Regions from separate parts of the Homo sapiens genome. Here regions 2, 3 and 4 are each linked to region 1. Evidence: fine-mapped expression QTL. A gene starts in region 1. Each other region holds a variant in brackets. All regions are shown on one strand. Distances are from middle to middle.

The links. PIP is the estimated chance that this variant, and not a neighbour inherited with it, causes the effect.
Region 2: its variant is the best candidate, but not a certain one, in a credible set for the expression of CA8 in whole blood (TOPMed, PIP 0.73).
Region 3: its variant is the best candidate, but not a certain one, in a credible set for the expression of CA8 in whole blood (TOPMed, PIP 0.73).
Region 4: its variant is the best candidate, but not a certain one, in a credible set for the expression of CA8 in synovium (Steinberg 2020, PIP 0.59).

What each region holds. Positions count from the first base shown.
Region 1 is chr8:60,278,441-60,283,591 of GRCh38, forward strand. It overlaps CA8 (carbonic anhydrase 8), which reads right to left and starts at 2,960. Exons shown (of 9, transcript NM_004056.6): 1 at 2,608-2,960; 2 at 1,249-1,440. The coding sequence starts at 2,707. RefSeq lists an enhancer at 2,436-2,942 and a silencer at 2,935-3,143.
Region 2 is chr8:60,237,097-60,242,247 of GRCh38, forward strand. All of the region lies in intron 3 of CA8 (carbonic anhydrase 8), which reads right to left. Among named protein-coding and RNA genes, the nearest start is that of CA8, 42 kb to the right of the region's middle. The variant T/A (reference allele first, on the strand shown) is at 2,164.
Region 3 is chr8:60,335,610-60,340,760 of GRCh38, forward strand. It overlaps LOC105375864 (a long non-coding RNA gene), which reads right to left and starts at 3,569. Exons shown (of 7, transcript XR_001745925.1): 1 at 2,971-3,569; 2 at 1,592-1,756. The variant T/C (reference allele first, on the strand shown) is at 1,956.
Region 4 is chr8:60,311,963-60,317,113 of GRCh38, forward strand. The region is part of intron 5 of LOC105375864 (a long non-coding RNA gene); the gene reads right to left. Among named protein-coding and RNA genes, the nearest start is that of CA8, 33 kb to the left of the region's middle. The variant AAAC/A (reference allele first, on the strand shown) is at 2,095.

The DNA of each region.
Region 1 (5,151 bases):
CATCTCAACACATCAACACACATGTACTTCTTTAAATTGCTTTTTATATGCCAGAACAGTCAGCATTCAATAATTTTACAATATCCTTTAAAAAACAGTAAGTAATGTCCCATCAAAGCTAAACCCACACCCCCAAAAAAATTCAAGTCGAAATTTCCATCTTAAACTGACTCTGACTAAGTACATATAAAGCCCAGTAACTCTTTTGGGCAATGCTCACATGCTGACTAAACTCAGAACAGCGAAGGAGACTACATGAATCTATGACTATCTCATGGATTCTAAATTAAAGCTTAGAAACATTTACAATGAATAAAATAAATCCATAGCTGGAAATCAACAGCTGCCTTGATTAATAACAAACCTAAAGATTTTATAGTTTGAGGTATCAACTTTATCAACTTGGAATTAATTTTCGAGCACAGTCTCTATTTATCAAGTACGTCCTAATATTTCAACATACTTTAATTTTTCCCAAAAGAAAAAGACAGTTATTATTCACTATGAAATGCATGCTATTAATGCTACATTTTTTAAAAATCTGATTTCCTCTTTCCTACGATAAAGCCAAAAACTGATTTCCTTGGTAATTACCTAACAACTTTTGCACAGAACATTTCAGATCCATCTCAAATAGGTTTGCAAGTGGTAGGAGAAGTTTCATGGGATGGAACTTAAATAAATAAATAAATAAATAAATAAAAGGAAGAGGTTTGTTTACCATTTAAATCTCTGGCTGAGTTTAGAGGCTGTTTCTTATTGTTATTAGTTAAAATTATTTTTGGCAAACTAATACAGTAGAGAAAATTAACCTGAGAAGTCTACCTTGAATGCCACGTTATGTCAATAAATTCTAATCTTTGGTTTCACAAAGTAGCAAAACAGAGAATTATGATTATCTAAGTGATTTAAGCTAATCAACAATTTTGGACAAAACGCAGATTACTGCACCTGCATGTACCTGTCCTCATATTTCACAAGGTATAAGGTGATCAAACTAAGGTTTTTCCAGTAACATCATAAGAAGCAGAACAACCGACTGATAATCTTCATAATTTCACTCTTTTGTCCTTTCAAAATTGTTTCAGAAGGTAATTCCCAAAAATGCTTTATATTATAATACAAAGGTATCCTGAAAATAGAGATACGTCAGTTGTACTTTTTAAATTGTGCAAGTTAAATCACAGTTCAATAACTCTACGCTGACTTCTAGTTTAAAAGACCACACAAACATATTTTCTAAAATACCTGATTTTGACTTCAGGATAACCTGAATGGTATGTCCATCATTGGTGACTTCACAGTCTCGGCACACCACATAATTTGGGGAGAGGCGGACATCCAACAGCGAGGGGTCATACCTAGCCTCTCTTGAGTTTAGGTTAATAGGAGACTGGTATTCCCCATTAGCATCAGGAAACACCAGACCCCACTCAACACCTAAGAACAAAATGAAATAAATTAAAAACAGGTTAAAAAATAAATTACAGTAAAATTTAACATGTAAAAACTAAACACTTAGAACCCTTGATATCATGAAGAGAGTAATGATACCATCACTATACAGATGAAATATGGTAATTCTATTTGTTTTTGCATTCATTATTTGAATGATCTGTTATTATCAAATACCATACACAAAATCCCGGACTAGCAAAATATTCTATTTGTATTTGTCAACAAAGACATAATAATTTATGATTCTAGGAAATTTGGGTCATTTTTAAGTGATTAGGAAAAAAGAATACCAGAACAATTTCTTCTGCTTATTAGTTCAATTACGTTCAGTACCTGGGAAACAGCTGTAACTTTCAACATACTTAGTGACAGTCAGAACCCTAACTCTCATGCTAGTAAATAGACGCCCCTTATCAGAAATGCAAGTGTAGTATTTTAAAGTGTGCATATGTATATATCTGTGTACATACATATTCCCATAGTCTTTCCAAATTTTTTATAATTAAAATTATATATTCTATATTGGTTTCAACATATGTAGTAAACATCAGCACTACTGGTTGGCTCTAATAGGAGCCCTAGGTCTTTAGGAATAAATCTAGGAAACTCGAGTTTTTCAGAAAGTCAACCGCTTCTCGCCAAACCCAATGATTCAGTCTGAAATTTAGGACATGTTTTAGAAAGACTTGAGCATTGCTAGCAGGCTTCACGAAAAGACCAGAGGCAGAAACACTTTCTCCCCAAAGTCTCCAAGCCAAAAACGAATTCTTCACGCTAACACTGTCTTCCTCAGGTGTTTAGTAAAATGTACCGCTGCTCTTCTTGACTACTCAGAAGACATAAAAGGTACAGCCACGGCTTGGAGGCTAGCCCGCCCTCCGGACCGCAGCAGGTGCGAACGCCAGCCCTGCGGAAGGCTCCCGGGTGAGAGCGCAGGCGGCGGAAGAGCGCAGGCGGCGAGCACGCCTCCCTGGAGCGCCTCCCGCCCGAAACGCACCAGGGGAGTGGGAAAGTGGCAGAGACCCCCGTGGGAAAGAGGGGGCGTGGGGGTGCTCGGAGCGCGCAGCGGCAGCAGGACTCGAGTCCCGCGCTCGGCGAGACACTGACGCCGCCGCGGGACCCCGGACACCCCGACTCGCGGCCACTTACCTTCCTCGTAGCCCCACTCCACACCCTCCTCTTCTTCCTCCTCATCCTCTTCCTTCTCGGGGAAGGCGACGGTATCTTCGATGAAGCTCAGGTCCGCCATGGGAAGGCCGCGGGGCCCCTCGGCGCTCTCGGCAGCAGTGCCTGCGCCTTCGCTGGGCGCGGGGCTGGAGCCGGAGCGGAGCGCGCGTGGGGGAGTGTGAGCACGCGTGAGCGGCAGTGTGAGTGCGAGAGCGCCTCCGGGTGTGAACCGCAGTGTGAGTGCAAGCAGGCGTGCGTTCGGACCGAGTGTTCCAGAGACCCGCGTGGGAAGCGCGTCCGGAGGCCCCAGCAGAGCGAGGGAGCGGCTGTGGCCTGGGGAGCGAGCGCCTGGCGAATTTTATACCCGACCGGGGCGTGTCTGGTACGCGAGGATCCGCCCCCTTCTCTCTCTGGCCGTTGGGGCCAGGGGAGCCGACAGTTAGAATGCGCCTCGGGGCGACTAGTCCCAAGTCACGGAAACCTCGGCGCATCCCCGCCCGCCCTTCCCCCGGGGTCGCCCCCGCCGCCTCCTGGCGCTTCCTCGCTGCGGCGACTCCTGCTTGGCCGCCCGAGCCTTCCTTCCAGAAGCCCGCAAGTCTCCCAAGGTCACTCGGGACCCCTGTGTGCCTGGCCTAGCCCAGAGGCTGCTCACCTATTCATTTTCATCCGTACTCCAGGAAATACCAAAAAGAAGGGGTCCTGGAGGAGAGAGATGGGCTGCCGTGGGTAGGAGAAAGGAGAGGGCTAGGAGACCCCGTAACACAATAAAAAGAGACTCTCCAGCGGAATCTTCTTAGTATCTTCTGAGTATTTACTTTTTAAATCGTCCGTTCAGCGCAGTGGAAACGAGTTTGGAAATTTTTCCAAGAAAGTTCTATTAATTCCTAAAAACGTTTAAGAAAAGAAAATGGTTGTTATCTAGAGAAGTAGCTATGATTTAGGGTTGTGTTTTTTTTTTTTTTTTTTCCAGAAAAGGGTATTGTTTCAAAGCAGGGCTAGCAGAAGGCAGTAGACAGAGGGTGTTCGCTGTCAGAGTCTGGGGCGCTGCTGCAGGCTCACCTGGCTGTGTACACAGCTCCCATTCACCTAGTGAAATCGTGTAAATAATGAAGTGCACACATTGCATAACAAACAGGAACTCTTCTGATCCAAAGAGGTGGCATTGTTACCCTTAAACGTGCTTCTCAGTCTAGTGTTAACGACTTCAGCCCTCTGTTCCTGTGCCTTTTAAAAGCCCTGGTCAGTAACCCCTAAGTAGGTTAACTCCACATTTTTAGAAGATATATGTGCACAATAAACTCGAGTTAGGACCTTAAGTACAATTTGTTTTTTATATGCTCTGGTCATTCATGAAGATATCTATTTGCACTTTGAATAACCTGTTCCTAAATCACACCAGCCTTATGAATGCATAATTCCTCAAATAAGGATGGAAATGATCCGTTTGGGAATGTTTAGTTTCAGTGCTCATATCCTTTACTGCCTGCTAAGCACCTCCACTTTTTAAAAAGACACTTCATAGCTTTTAAAAAAAAAAAATTACAAACTGCTCCAGAAAGTACACTGAGATGGAAAGAAGTGGGGGGAACCCTCAACTCGCTCAATTCTGCCACTTTCTGGAAGGTTTAACCAAATATATGGAAAACTACTGGCCAACATTAGCTTGGAGGATAACCGGTGGATTTTAAGCATTCATATAATTTCTCTTTTCCTTAACTGTGCAGAGGACTGAAACAGTTTGAGAAACTAAATTCATTTTTCACTCACTGCATTCTGGGTGTTCTTTAGTGGACGGTCGTTTGCATCTTTGCAAGCCTGGGACTGGCAGAAGCAGAAGCCTACCCCAAAGCCAGAGCTATTAAAAATAATAAGCACTACTGAAAATATTAACTACTTTTCACTGAAGGTCTTCTAAAAGGAACATTTATTTTTCCTTTCTTGAAAACTTTTTTGTAATCTTCTATTTGTTTTAAGTTTCTTTTTAGAAGTATGTTCACACGTTAATTAAATGCCACAGCTAAGGAAGCCCATACAAAGGCTATGAAGGAATTGGATAATAAAAGCACTGCCACTCTGAGCTCATCAGCAATGGCCTTTCTCCTCTGTCCCCCAAATGTGCCTAAGTATGACATTGTAGCCATTGTGTGACCACCAACTGTGTTTAAAATATCAGGTGAATCATAGAGATGTTTATCAAACCAGAGGATGGTACAATCACCATGGTAAAAAACTGAATTTTCCATGAATAAATACTGTGCCATATTTACAAAAGATAGGCTGAAAGATTGAATTATTAGTATTTACTTTTACAGTAAAAAGACAATTTTGCATATAGCCAGCAATGTATTACTATTCAAATATGCAGTTGACTACTAGCATTGGCCTATATTTGCTCCTTCTGAATTGTTCATGATTATTTGTAGAATGTAACTCCTGTATGCAAGCCTAGGGTTCCCTGTCCAGCCACATATGAGCCAATCCTCTAAGCACCCAAATATTCAATTAACAGCCTTAATTGCTTTGAGA
Region 2 (5,151 bases), 41 kb before region 1:
TCCATTATTCTGAGAGGCAATGTGCTCTCATAAAAGACCTCTGCTAGGAATCTCGTCTTAGATTCTTGTTTCAGTCCTACAACTCTTTAGCTCTGTGAACTTCACTAGTCACTAACTTCTTTCAGCATGTCTCTCTGTAACACAGGAGACTGTATCTTAAAAGCTTGGATTATTCACGCTTTTCTCTGTCTTCCCATAGTACTCTTTTTCCTATATTCTTATCACGTTTTACTGTTATTAGCATTATATATAGCCAGCAAAGGCAGGGAAGCAGGATGATGGATTCTGACAAAGAAAAGCAGCCAACTGGATTATAGTTTAGACCAAGTATGTAAATGCCACTTACCATTTCTAAGGAGAGCAAGGGTCGGCCGCATTAGCACTGCATCTGTTTAGAAGTAGACGGGTCACTGCATAGGGTCACTTACTCCTCCAGGGTCCACTGGACTAAAGATGGCTCCAGGCAGGACCCTGCCCCACAGGCCTTCAAGAGCCTGGACCTGCTCTACCTGGTAAACACACTGCACAGCAGGTGGCTGAGGGGCTGCCTCTTGCAGCCTGAACCCAAGACCTACTATGGCTACCAACAACAACAGCAGAATCCCTCCTGCTGAAAGAATCTGCCTCCAGGCTCCCTTCAGCCATTCTCCCTCCAAAGGCAAAAGGTTTGGCCTCCTCCTACACTTGGGCACCTCAGGGTAGAAGAAAGTGGTTTTCCGTAACAATTAAAGCTGAGTCCTTCCTCACTCCTTATAACTCTTCCCCCCAGCCCACCAACAGGAGGCAAGTGTTACAAAGACATAAAACAGCCAAGATCCATTATTACTCTGGCAGCATGATGACCATTATGTCTTCTGTTAAAAAATCGGACCACAGGAAAACAACCATGATGCATCCTTTTACAGCTTCAGGGAAAATCTTGGACCGAGCTTTTGCTACAGGACTCACAACTTCATATTCCCGCAACTGATTATGCTGCCTTACCATTAGCACCTGTGAAACGTTCAAAACGTTCATCTTAATGCACTTAACTCACAGAATAGATAAATTTGTCCAAAGTTAAGAAATTGCGACATGCCACAGCCTTATCATCATTTGTCACTGAGAAAAATAAGTTTGAAGACTTCATGGCAGCTTAACAGAAAGCTATCTTCACGACAAATGAGGTTTATTACTAACATAAATAATACGACGGCAGCAAAGTACCAAAGAATGAATCATGAGGAACGGAAAAAGTAGTAAACACTGAAAAGGCAATTATGACTCACAAATTTCCTTTTCCCCAGCCCTGGGCACTCATACAAATTCTGTGACATCTCCTAACTGCAAATGCAGGGACCTTTCCTTTCAGATGTCTTCTTGACACCTCAAGATGAACATTTCTACAACTGACATCAACCCTCTTCAAAGGAGCTTCCCACTCACACACTCTTCATAGAACTCCCCCTCCTGCCCCGCTTGCCAGGCTTGAGACCTGGGACCCCCGTGCCTTTATCTCCAGAGCTCATCTAGACCTCTCCTGGGCCCTGGCATTTACATTATGAAGCCCGACTAATCTCTTTTTAACACAACTTTCACCACATTTCCTCTGTTGAAAATCTCTGATTTCCTTTATTTCCTATCCATATCAGACTTACATTTCTCAAACCACATCCTTCCCCACCCTAACTCTCCCCACATGCTCAAACCAAGCATGACCCTGACTCCTCACAACAGCCTCCCCATTCTGCTTATGCCCACTCACCTGGAATGCCTTTCCCCAATCTGCCCTGACACCCAGACAAATCCTACCTGTCCTCCTAGGCACTGATGGGCATTTGACAGAAAGATGGAGGCTGGAGATGCCAGAAATAAAGGGTGCAGGGAGGAGGGGAGACAGTGGGAAGGGAGAAAGAGACAGAGAACTTCAACCAACAGACAGGAAGAAAAAGGAAGAGAAAGAGGGGAGATAACTGGGATTTCTACCAAAATCATTTTATCAAAAGGGAGATAAATTCAGGGGTGTTTTGAGGGTTTGGTTTTTGCAACAGATGGAGTCTTGCTGTCATCCAGGCTGCAGTGCAGTGACAAAATCACAGCTCACCGCAGCCTTGAACTCCTGGGCTCAGGTGATCCTCTCACCTCAGCCTCCAGGGGAGCTGGAATTACAGGTGTGAGCCACAA[T/A]TGAATTCAGTTTTAGATAGGAGTGTAAACCCACATCAGAACAATCAAACTAGTGCCCCATTAGTGAGAGGTGCAGAACTGCTGCTGCCTTGAGAAAGGGCTAAAGGTACAGGGAGCAGATACCCCTAGAGCAGGGGTGTTCAATCTTTTGGCTTCCCTGGGCCACACTGGAAGAAGAAGAACTGTCTTGGGCCACACAGAAAATATACTAACACTAACAACAGCTGATGAGAAAAAAACAATTGCAAGAAAATCTCATAATGTTTTAAGAAAATTTACAAATTTGTGTTGGGCCATATTCAAAGCCATCCTGGGCTGCATGTGGCCCACAGGCCATGGGTTGGACAAGCTTGCCCTAGAGAAATGTGACCTTGTAGAGTTGGTTCACTCATGGATTGATACGGTTTGGCTGTGTCCCCACCCAAATCTCATCTTGAATTGTAGCTCCCATAATTCTCACTTGTTGTGGGAGGGATCCTGTAGAAGATAATCAAATCTTGGGAGCAGTTCCCCCCATACTGTCCTCGTGGTAGTGAATAAATCTCACGAGATCTGATGATTTCAAAAGGGGTTTCTTCTTTCACTTGGCTCTCACTCTGTCTCTTGCCTGCCGCCATGTAAGACGTGCCTTTCACCTTCCACTATGATTGTGAGGCCTCCTCAGCCACGTGGAACTGTGAGTCCAGTAAACCTCTTTTTCTTTATAAATTACCCAGTGTTGGCTATGTCTTTATCAGCAGCATGAAAACAGACTAATACATGGATCAAGTCTTGAGAGAAACTGACGGGGGACCAAAGACTGAGCTTTGGAAAATGGTGAGATAACGAAAGAGGGACTATCAAATATGCAAGAGGGAACTCAGAAAATTCCAAAGTGCCATTAAAAGAGAACAGACTTTCTAGAAGACAGTGTGGGCATCAATACTGTCAAGGAGATACTAGCAGCAAAGCTATGACAGCTGCAAAGAAACAAGGAAAAATGAGGACAGAAAGAGACTTTGGACCTATTGTTTTTTAGATTATTGAGATGGCAGTTTCAAGACAGTGAAAGGCACACAGGGAGAACACAGAGACATCAGGATAAAACAAGTGGAGCAAGGCCAATCAGCCTATAAGGTAGGCAGGATTATCAGAAAACAGACATTAGAAGTCAGCTGAAATCACTGGTTGAGAGTGAGCAAAGCTCACCTTTGACTTTTTAATATTCTTATCTATTTTCTTAATGGTTAAAAGTAAAACTGGAGAGAAATAACAGGCTGCTGTTAAGTTTTGATGAATAATAAATATTCAATGCAGCCCATGAACTCAGATGTAACTGGACCTGTAAACCACTTTCTACCCAATGTATAGTCATTAAGAACTTTCCTCTGAGCCAGGACACTATAGAGTATAGCTTCACAGAGGGAAAAAATCATCAAGAACAGATCTTTATTTCTGTGTCCTGATTTTGCTTAATTGCCTTCCTCAGCCCCCAAAAAATCCAACTATAGAAAACTGTAGCAGGTCCCAATAGATTCTGAGTTCCAGAAGCCAAGTATCTCACCCACCCAGGCTCTGCCACACTCAAAACAGCCCTTCTCAGAGCACTCAGAGGGGGCTATAAAATTTTGAAAAAGAAAAAAAAAGATTATATCTCAGCTGTTCTTATGATACTGGAAATTGAAAGAAAGAAGATAGTAAGCACTGGAAAAAGAAGGAAAAAAAGGGGGAAAAGGAAACAGAAAGTAGAACATTTAAGTCACAAAATGGGTCATTAAATAACTGAGAAATAGTTAACAGAGAAAGCACCATCTCTTTCCAGATCCACTCATAATTATATGAAGCAGCCCATTCATCAGCAGATAAATCAAGATTTAGTGTGTATTATTCTCAGATGCTGCTACGCTTTAAGTCATCACTGTCAATATATTATGCTGCTATTATTCAGAGAAGGACGTTCAAGGTGTAGACAGATATAACAGTGACAAAATACTGTAAAGCATGGAATGGAACATAAATTATTCGAAATTCTATCTCTAGCTATCACCTACTTGTTATGTCTGCCAAAACCTAACCAAGTCTTGTATACAGATAGGTAGAAGAGAAATAGGGGAATGTGACAGAGGGCTTCAGAGCAACTTCCCCCATGAAGACATTAATATCAAAAGGTATTTATAGTGTTCTTAGTAAAAGGCACTAGTGCTATGTAATTTATAAAAAGAAGATCTTATTTCAAAGCAGAATGGCTGCCTCTTTAAATGCTGACTGATTTCCTGCCTTCTTAGGAACAGGGCTTTATAACACCATTGGACTCTTCTCCCAAAAATGAAGCTTCCTTTATGAAATTCACTATAAAAGATTGGGAAAAGCTTGGTGCAGTCATAGATCAAAGAAAAGAAAAACTACATCATTTTTATGTTTTATATTTAATGTAAAATCAGAAGCAATTAAAACTCATTCTTCAACACTGGTTTCTTGATTTCCAGGAAATATCCTACATTTTATTTTCTAAAAAAAAAAAACCTGAATTGTAGGCTATAGCTGCAATTAAATTGCTATAACTTCCCTACTTCATTTATTATTTTGTAAAATAAAGAAAGCAAAGAGATTGTCAACGGGTCTTGTTATAGAATGTAAGTCATTTATAGATTGGATCTGTTCATTCTATACAGTGAATCAGTGACTAATGGCTGCAATCCTCTCCCTGCTCATCCCTGAATGAGAGCCACGATGATGAAAGAGTTCTGAAATAATGGCAGCACTCATCTCAACATTTATTGAGCACCGACAGTATCTAGGGTTTTAGTGTTCACTGCTTCTGGCACTGGAAATGCAAAGACTCAAATCTTGTTATAAAAGAATCCAGGATGTAAATAAACAAAAATAAGAAATTTATAGCCCAATAGAAGAAAAGGATGAGTGAAAAGGATTAGTGCACAATCGAAATGTTAAAGGATGCTGTGGGTATTTTTATTGATTTAATAGGCACTGATATGACATTTTCTGCCA
Region 3 (5,151 bases), 57 kb after region 1:
ACCCTGTGGAAATGTGAGTAAATTAAACTTCTTTCCTTTATAAATTACCTAATCTTGGGTATGTCCTTATTAGCAGTGTGAGAATGGACTAATATAGTAAATTAGTCCGTGGGGTTGTACCTAGCAAAGCCAAGGCGGAGCTGCCCAAGGCCATGGGAGCCTACCTTTTGCATCAGCACGCCCTAGATATGAGACATGGAGTCAAAGGAGATCATTTTGGAACTTTAAGGTTTAATAACTACCCTATTGGATTTCGGACTTGCAAGGAGCCTGTAGCCCCACTGTTTTGGCCAATTTCTCTTATTTAGAATGGGTATATTTACCCAATACCTATACCTCCATTGTATCTGGAAACTAACTAACTTGCTTTTGATTTTACAGCCTTATAAGTAGAAGGAATTTGCCTTGTGTTAGATGAGACTTTGGACTTGGACTTTTGGCTTAGCACTGGAATGAGTTGACCTTGGGGGATGGTTGGAAGGGCATGATGGTATTTTGAATTGTGAGGACGTGAGATTTGGGAGGGACCAGGGGGAGAATTATATTGTTTGGCTATGTCCCCACCCAAATCTCATCTTGAATTATAGTTCCCATAATCCCCACATGTTGCACGAGGGACCCAATGCACATAATTGAATGATGGGGGTGGTTTCCTCCATCCTGTTCTCATGGTAGCGAGTTAGTTCTCATGGGATCTGATGGTTTTATAAGGGGCCTTTCCCCACCCATCACTCTGCACTTCTCCTTGCTGCCACCATGTGAGGAAAGACATGTTTGATTCCCCTTCCAGCATGATTGTAAGTTTCCTGAGGCCTTCTCAGCCCTGCGGAACTGTGAGTCAATTAAACCTCTTTCCTTTATAAATTATCCAGTCTCTGGTATGTCTTCATTAGCAGCGTGAGAATGGACTAATACAATGTGCCCATCATAAATCTTAAAAATGTTGGCCAAAGATAAAATGTAGACAATAACACTAGGTTTGAAGGTGCTGTGCTCAGAATTACTGGGGATAAGAACAAAGGTTGACAATTCCTTTGACCCCATATGAGGACTGACTTTTCCTCTGCCCCCACCACCGTACTGCCCACACTTCCAGCTGCTCTAGGCACACACACCCTGTCGACCAGGATGAGTAGACAACACACAGCTGAGAAGTCCCAATGCCCAAGACTAGGCTGTTTTGTCAAGCCATCTCCAATTCCTATGCACCAGTGGTGGTGGCCAGGAAATGAGAACTTTCAAACTCAAAGTGGAAGAGGCCGGGCGCGGTGGCTCACGCCTGTAATCCCAGCACTTTGGGAGGCCAAGGCGGGCGGATCACGAGGTCAGGAGATCAAGACCATCCTGGCTAACACGGTGAAACCCCGTCTCTACTAAAAATACAAAAAATTAGCTGGGCGCGGTGGCGGGCACCTGTAGTCCCAGCTACTCAGGAGGCTGAGGCAGGAGAATGGCGTAAACCCGGGCGGCGGAGCTTGCGGTGAGCCAAGATCGCGCTGCTGCACTCCAGCCTGGGCGACAGAGCAAGACTCCATCTCAAAAAAAAAAAAAAAAAAAAAAAAAAACTCAAAGTGGAAGAAATGTTACTCACAATTTGAATGGCTGAAATGAAAATATCAACAACAGGAGAGCACGGCAAGGAGCAAAGGGACAATTGTAAGCAGCAGAGGATTGAGGTCCTTAAGTTGAGCTGAAATGGGGTCCACTTAGATTCAGAAAGCCTTCAGGCATGTGACCCAGGTCTCAGCTTCCTCATCTACGAAGTGGAGATGATGGTTGATTCTCATTATTCATGGTAGTTACACTCTAAAGTGACTGCAAACACTGAATTTGTGAATACTGAGCCAGTGCTTTTATGGGAAATATGGGGTTAGATCCCTGCCAGCCTCTGGTCACATTTCCATCAACTGATCAATACATTTTTGTAATGTGTGTTTCTGTTTAAACACAGCATA[T/C]TGAATCCCTAACAGAGACATTAAACCCTTACTCAGAAGTAAATAGTGCTATTTCCTCAATAAAATATTGCTGATTAGCTAACATTGAACAGCCACCAGCACTACAACTCCTGCCTGAAGGAAGCTTATCTAACACACCCGTTTTCTCCATAAGGTACCTCACAGCCTCTTGTGTTTAAAACACCAGAAGGCACTGCAGCACTACCCTTCGGGGCCATCTCAAACAGCAAAATCACCAGTATTGAAGTTGGGGTTGCAAATCAATTTTTGCAAATACGTAAATTTGCAAATACCGAAGTGATGAATAGTGAAGATTGACTGTAATAATAATAATACAAGCTGTGGAGATTAATGAAATAATCCATGTCAAACATTTAACAGCATGTGGTACATATATACCAAATATGTACTGAACAAGTAACTGTTTTTGCCAAATATTTGAAGCCACTATTAAGGTGTTAAGTATATAACTATGAATATTACCATATACTGTAAATGGGTACTCTAGAAGGAAGACTACAAAAACAGCCTAATGTTAAAATTACCTGATAAACAGGTACAGTTTCTTTGCCACAACTTTTTAAAAATGACTTTAAAAAAACACTTAAAATGAAGCTACCTATGTGTTTTTCATAGCAAGTTAGTTGAATTAAAATTAAGACCCTCGGGAGATCTGGAAGTAGGTGGGAATGAGGAGCAAATTAATTGTTTTGCAATAAAAACTGCTCCCCAATCCTCCAGTCCCTAACAGAGACAATTAACCCTTACTCAGAAGTAAATAGTGCTACTTCCTCAATATTAACAGGATTCAGTAAAGGATGTTTCAGTGTATTTTTTTTTTTTTTACTTTAACAACCACCTTGTTTGGCATTTATTTTTACTTTGTTGTAATAGTAAACACAAGGGATCCCCTTTATTTAGCATAAAATTTCCTTGCCAGAAAGTAAATATTTGATGTTTATATAAGCAGCTATAAAAACAATTTCCTGAGAGATTTCTCCACAAAAATATTTACCTGCTTGAGCCGATGGATTGAGATGATTTGGAAACCAAACTTCCTTTCCAGTGTGGCTAGGTAGGCATTTCCTTCTAACTTATCCTTCACAACTCACTACAACATTTGAAACCTCTTGTCTTCAGGATTTTGTGTTCAAAACTTCACTGAACTTTTTTTGTTTGTTTAACTTATCTAAAATATTAGTAATAGTCTATCTATAGTATCTATAACATTTCTTTTCATTGTCTCAACTCCAAAACCCACTCCTCCCGCATTTCTGGTTTCTGTGATGGGATCACCATTCTTGTAGTTGCCCAGGCTTGTACCGTTGGGTTCACCTTTTACTTCTTCCTCTTCATTGCTGCATGCCAAACTCATTCAACTTCTTTATCCTGAGGCTACATTACAGCATGCATTCTGTCCATCCCCATCTCTCCATTCCCATTGCCCTTGTCCTAGTTGAAGTTCTCAATTCTTATTGCCAGAGCCAAGGCAATAACTTTGTAATCACCCTTCCATCATCTTCCCCAAACCATCATACCTGTGGCTACCAAATTCATTTTTATAAAGTATTATTTTATTATCACCATGGCATGACACAGCAAGAAGGCCCTCCCCAGATGCTAGCCTCTCAATCTTGGACTTCCCAGCCTCCAGAACTGTGAGCCAATAAATTTATGTTTATTAGAAATTCCTAGTCTCAAATATTCTGTTATAGCAACACAAAATAGACTAAGACAAACTCTCAAATGTGGAGCTCCCTATCTAAATCCTTTCCACATCTCGTTCTTTTCCATGGAACATATTGTCCACCAGGCAACAGTTGGAGTTTCAGTTCTTCAGAATGCACAGGGTCACCTTGCCTTGAAGCACTTCAGATCTCCATATTGTAGTCATATAATGGTTCTCTCTTGGAATGAAGATGATTTTTTTTTGCCACATTGTATACTTACTCATGAGCTCTTTCATCAGAAATGCTGCAGTTTTGTTACTGATGTTTTTAGAGTCAAAACATAATCTTCTATTTTATCTAAAATTTCCCTCTTCTATGGGTAAAAGAAATGTCTTTTTAAAAAGTAAGGGGTATTGTTCTCCAGTCCCGATATAGAAAATGATATCCTAAAGGAAAAAAACGCTGAAAGGTGGTTACTAAGTAAAGGCCTTCAGTTTTTCTTTCCCAGAACACGCTTGAGGTGTATTTGACATCTGTCTAACTCAAATTTCATTCCTTTTGAATGTCTCAGTTCCCATATTCCTTCCACAATGTAGACAAAAATCTCCATTTACCCTGTTGAAGAATCTCATACTAAAATCCTAAATCACGACAAAGCAAGGTTATGAGCATGGCTCAGAGCATGCACTGTGACCTCACAAGGAAAGGTGACTATGGGGGCCTGGATTAGGAAAGATGTCAGGGAGGAGGTGGCATTTGAGTTAGGCCTGAAACAAGCATTAGCAGTGGAGCACCCAGAGTCGCAGTGAAGGAAAATGTAAACAGAAAGGATGTAGCAGGAAAGGAACAAAGTCAAGATTTCTGGATGCAACGACAGAGAGCTACAAGAGTTTGTTTTGGTCTGGCCCATGCTTCATGAAAGAAAATTGTGAGACATTTGTTATAAAGGAGGATTGTAGACTGGCCCATGAGGAATCTCACTGCCAAGCAAAGGAGAGGCAGCACTTTATTCTGTGGGCAATGGGGAGCCAATGAAGGACAAAACAGCCAGCATAAAAAAGAACTTAACAGATCTGACAGAGCTGAATAACACAATGTAAGAATTTCACAATGCAATCACAAGTATTAACAGCAGAACAAACCAAGCTGAGGAAAGAATCTCAGAACTTCAAGACTGGCTCTCTGAAATAAGACAGTCAGACACCGAAGAAGTATGGGATTATGTAAAGAGGACAAATATCAGAATCACTGGCATGCCTGAAAGGGAGGGGGAGGAAGCAAACAACTTGGAAAACATATTTCAGGATATTGTCCATGAAAACTTCCCCAACCTTGATAGAGAGGCCAACAGTCAAATTCAGGAAATGCAGAGAATGCTTGCAAGATTCTACACAAGAAGATCATCCCCAAACACATAATTGTCAGATTTTCCAAGGTCAAAATGAAAGAATGTTAAAGGCAGCTAAAGAGAAAGGGCAGGTCACCTACAAAGGGAACCCCATCAAGCTAACAGTGAACCTCTCAGC
Region 4 (5,151 bases), 34 kb after region 1:
AGGTCACAAGGGATATGATGGCTTAGCTTGGGCTCAGAGGCCTGACACTTAGGGCTTTTGTTTTGTTTTGTTTTGTTTTTTGAGATGGAGTCTCACTCCTGTCACGCAGGCTGGAGTGCAACAGCGTGATCTCGGCTCACTGCAACCTCCATCTCTGGGTTCAAGTGATTCTCCTTCCTCACCTCCTGAGTAGCTGGGATTACAGGCATGCACCACCATGCCCGGATAATTTTTGTATTTTTAGTAGAGATGGGATTTCGCCATGTTGGCCAGGCTGGTCTTGAACTCCTGACCTCAGGAGATCCACCCACCTCAGCCTCCCAAAGTGCTAGGATTACAGGGGTGAGCCACCACGCCCAGCCAAGGGCTCTTTTTTCCTTAATGTAAATGTGCACAAAGACCATATTATTTTGGCAAGTAGAGGTGCCATAAAACCTACAGACTGCTCAAAAGGGGGTCATTCTCCTTGTTTTCTCATCATTCTTAGATTGTTTCCCATTTTTTTTCTTTCTTTTTTTTTTTTTTTAAGGGAGGAACTGAGCTATGGTCCATGGTTTTTGTGTGGTGGATCAACATGTGCTGCTTGTGGGCAGGACTCCACAGTGTGTCACCACTGAGTAGTTTCAACCCTTTTATATGTCTCAGTTTCTCCCTCCAGAGGTCTGTGACCTCAGAGAGGGCTCAAAACACCAGATGATTAGCCCTTACATGTGTTACCTAGATGAGCCATTTATAAAATTAATTTTTGTTGGGGATTCCCTTGCAGGGCTGCTGCACGTCATGGGGTGGTCAACCTCCCAGACACTCCCATGGGGCCCCCGGTCACCCAGGGAAGCCTTTCAGCTGGAAGGAGCAAAATGCCCCTTCTCTTCAGGGCTAAGAAAACTCAGTCTCTCATTAACATATCAAAACAACAGTTTAGTTCCTCATGCAAATGCACACAGACAAACTCAATTAAGATTAAAAATTTGGGACAAAAAGCAATAGAGAAGACCTTTCAAATGCATCTCCAAACTAGAATTAGGATCCTTAAACAACAACTTTAAATGGGAACAAACAACAAAGCCCCAACAACATGATCACTGAACCCTCTAATGGTAAGGAGAAATTCATGTTACAGGAAAGGGGGCCAGATCCAGGCTCCAAGACAGGGTTCTTGGATCTCGTGCAGGAAAGAATTCAGGGTTAGTCCATAGAGTAACATAAAAGCAAGTTTATTAAGAAAATAAAGGAGTAGGCTGGGCGCAGTGGCTGACACCTGTAATCCCAGCACTCTGGAGGCCAAGGTGGGCAGATCACCTGAGGTCAAGAGTTTGAGACCAGCCTGGCCAATATGGTGAAACCCCGTCTCTACTAAAAATACAAAAATTAGCCAGGTGTAGTGGCACGTGCCTGTAGTCTCAGCTGCTCGGGAGGTTGAGGCAGGAGAATCGCTTGAACCAGGGAGGCAGAAATTGCATGGACCTGAGATCACACCGCTGCATTCTAGCCCAGGTGACAGAGTGAGACTCCATCTCAAAAAAAAAAAGGAAAAAAAAAAAAGAAAGGAGTAGAAGAATGCCTACTCCACAGACAGAGCAGCCCTGAGGGCTGCTGGTTGCCCATTTTTATGGTTATTTCTTCATTATGTGCTAAACAAGGGGTGGATTATTCATGCCTCTCCTTTTTAGATCATATAGGGTAACTTCCTTACATTGCCATGGCATTTACAAACTGTCATGGCACTGATGTGAGTGTAGCAGTGAGGACGATCAGAGGTCACTTTTGTTACCATCTTGGTTTTGGTGGGATTTGACAAGCTTCTTTACTGCAAACTATTTTATCAGCAAGGCCTTTATGATCTGTCTTGTGCTGACCTCCTATCTCATCTTGTGACTTAGAATGCCCAACCATCTGGAAATCCAGCCCAATTGGTCTCAGCCTCATTTTACCCAGCCTCTACTCAAGATGGAGTTGCTCTGGTTCAAATGCCTCTGACATGTAGACCAGTTGGTTGTTAATCTTAACTTTAGCCAAGCTAAACCCTAATTCAGTTACTTATCTAGGAATGGGTTTCAGGCAGAAGACTGCTCTCTACCATCCTAGAAGCAGGAA[AAAC/A]AACAACAACAACAACACACACACACACACACACACACACACACACTCATCTTCTCTGTTGGAAGTGAGCTTAAACTCCATAAAGGAGTTACCTGCCTTCCCTCATGGGCCCAAGATATTTTCCTTTCACATTCCTATAAAAGATTATATAACTTCTGCTTGAACATTTTCAATGACAGAGAACCCACAAATCAAAACTTCTATTTCTTTTTCTTTTCTTTTTCTTTTTTTTTTTTTTTTTGAGACAGAGTCTCCCTCTGTCACCCAGGCTGAAGTGTTTTAGCATGATCTAGGCTCATTGTAACCTCCACCTCCCAGGTTCAAGTGATCCTCCTGCCTCAGCCTCCCAAGTAGCTGGGATTACAGGTACATGCCACCACGCCCGGCTAATTCTTTTTTTTTTTTCAGTAGAGACAGGGTTTCACTGTGTTGGCCAAGCTGGTCTTGAACTCCTGACCTCAAGTGATCCACCCATCTGAGCCTCCCAAAGTGCTAGGACTACAGGCATGAGCCACCACACCTGGCCCAAAACTCCCATTTCTTAATAAGTTTTTCATATATTAAGATCTGCTTTGCTGTAGCTTCTTACCCCCTCCTACCCCTACCCCCAACCCCGTTTACTCTGGTTCTGACCTCTGGAACTACACAAAATAAGGACAGCGCTTTGCTTCATGACAGTTCTTTAGTATTTTATAACTTGGATCACTGTCCACAGTGCATCTCATCTTTGCCCGGCTGAAAATATTCCTGGTCCTATCGTGTGTCCACATAATATTAATACATAATTTCAAGAGCTTCTGCTCTCCTGGTTACACTCTGGATAAACATTCTTCTCTTCATAATATATCTCACGTAAAAAAATGGTCCAAGTCTTAGAAACAGACCAAAGTGATTCCTGGTGTCCTTTCAGTGGAGGGCAGGACATTGTTAGCAGACCCTCTGGGATTCTCTAATTCCACAGGACGTGCACTTTCAATTGCCTGTGATTGACTAGGCTATTTTACAACTCTGTTGGAATAGGGTTTAAGTTATAGAAAATGGATAACGATGCAAATGTTTCCTGCCCATAGCTATGCAAATGATACCCGTGCATGACAATGCAAATGAATTTTGTCTGGCAGAGAATATAAATCTCTGCAAATCAAAATCTCATTTTAAATGGTTTTTAATTAATGAGTTAAATAAAATATTTGACACATTTATTTTATTTTTGTGATTTTACATTTCTGAAAATTATGCTTTTAACCCTCAGGAAACAGGTTCCCAGAACGCAGTGGACCCTTCCTGCTTGCCTGGTGACTCTACGTGTGGTGGGAACTCGAGAGCTTTTTAATAACCTCATTAGCACTATTGACACTTTGAGTACAGAGTGAAACAAAACAATTATTTTCTTCACAGATGATACTGTAGCCAAGTTTCTCATATCTTATGCCTTTATTTTGTAACACGAATGCTAGATTTTTAAATATTTATTTCTTTTAAGTTTAATGTTGAGAATGTGAGCTCATTACTCCAGCCCAAGGAAACAATTGTCCTGTCATTTATGTCTTTATCAAAGAACAAACCAGAATCCAAAACCGCTCAGAACTCAGAGGACTTTGGTAAGCAGAACCTGCTTTCACGGCCGGAATAGGGGAGAGAGAAGGGAGTACAAGGGTTTCTCTGCAGAAGCACAATCCAGCTGAGGCTGATGCAGGTTTGTGGGAAACTTACACAACTGGGGCTGGGAGGCTGTAAGCGGTCCTCTCCAGGAAGAATGGTAGTAACCACAGGAGCATCTCAAACTGGGCCTACTCTATTGATAATAGAATGTCTAAGTACCTTGTAGATATAACAGAGCCAAGACTGCAAGTCATATGGCCCAGGCATGTACAATAGGAAAGATTTGACCTCTGACATCCAAAACCAACAATTCCTCCCCACGGAACCAGGAAGACCAGGACACAACCAGAACCTGAACATCAGAACCATTTCAAAAGCGAGGGGGTCTGACGGCCAGGAAGATCCAGGGCTAAAATCAGCCTCAACGTACCTTACCAAAAATAGTCACATTTGAAGCTCTCCAATCAGACCTTACCACACCAAAATCCTTTCTGCCTTCCAATCCCTTGAAACTTGCCGCAGACTCAAATTTGGGAGACAGATTTCAGCCATGCCTTCTGTGTCAGCCTCTCAATGAATTGTTTTTTATCTCAAAAGCTGGTGCCGTAGTATGGCTTCTAATTACATCAAGCAGTGAGACCATTTGCTCAATAACAGAATAATGCAAAATTGTCCATTTTTCTTTATACAATGTTACACATACTTCACTAAAATTACTCTCCTCAAAATAATATAAAATTAAGAATATAAAATTGCTAGAGCCTCTCCAAGGGCCTTGCAAGGTACCCTGTGAAAGTGATGGGCCCTGAGCATAAGCTTCTTTGGCTTCCCCATTAAGTCTGTCTGAAGGTCTGCTAAGGTGTGTCAGTGCAGAGAACGTCCTCAGTACCTAGGAGTGCGACTTCCTGCCTATCTCACAATTTTCGTGTCATTCATTTCTGTGACTCCCACCTCTTTACAAAAGATATGTAGAAGCTCCATGCACCTACTTTTTGGGGGTGACCACTAATTATTACTACTATTATTATTATTCAGCCCCATGACTTCCTATATTATTCTTAGAGATCACTTGGGAAACTGATTATCTTGATTTTAACAGAATGAAGTTTTCAAAGCTGTTGACCTTTATAAAAATCTAGTCTCCATGCACCTATTTTTTTGGAATCATTTAAAAATTATTCCGAGCTTACTCTGCTTTCCTTTTTAGAGGCCTCATAGATACAGACAAAGAATCTTTGCTTGGCCAAACTCTACTCAGCCTTCTGAATATTCTTCTAGGCCCATCTGTGCACTTCCATGTAAAATCCAGTTTTCGCAAGACCCCTGCTAAGTCAGTTTAGCCTGAATTCACCTTACCCCAGAGATTCCCTCTTGGTAATTTTTCCATTTGCTGACCCCTACCCTGCTCCTTGGCTCTATGGTCCCACTTGCCCATGCTGTACTCAGAGTTGA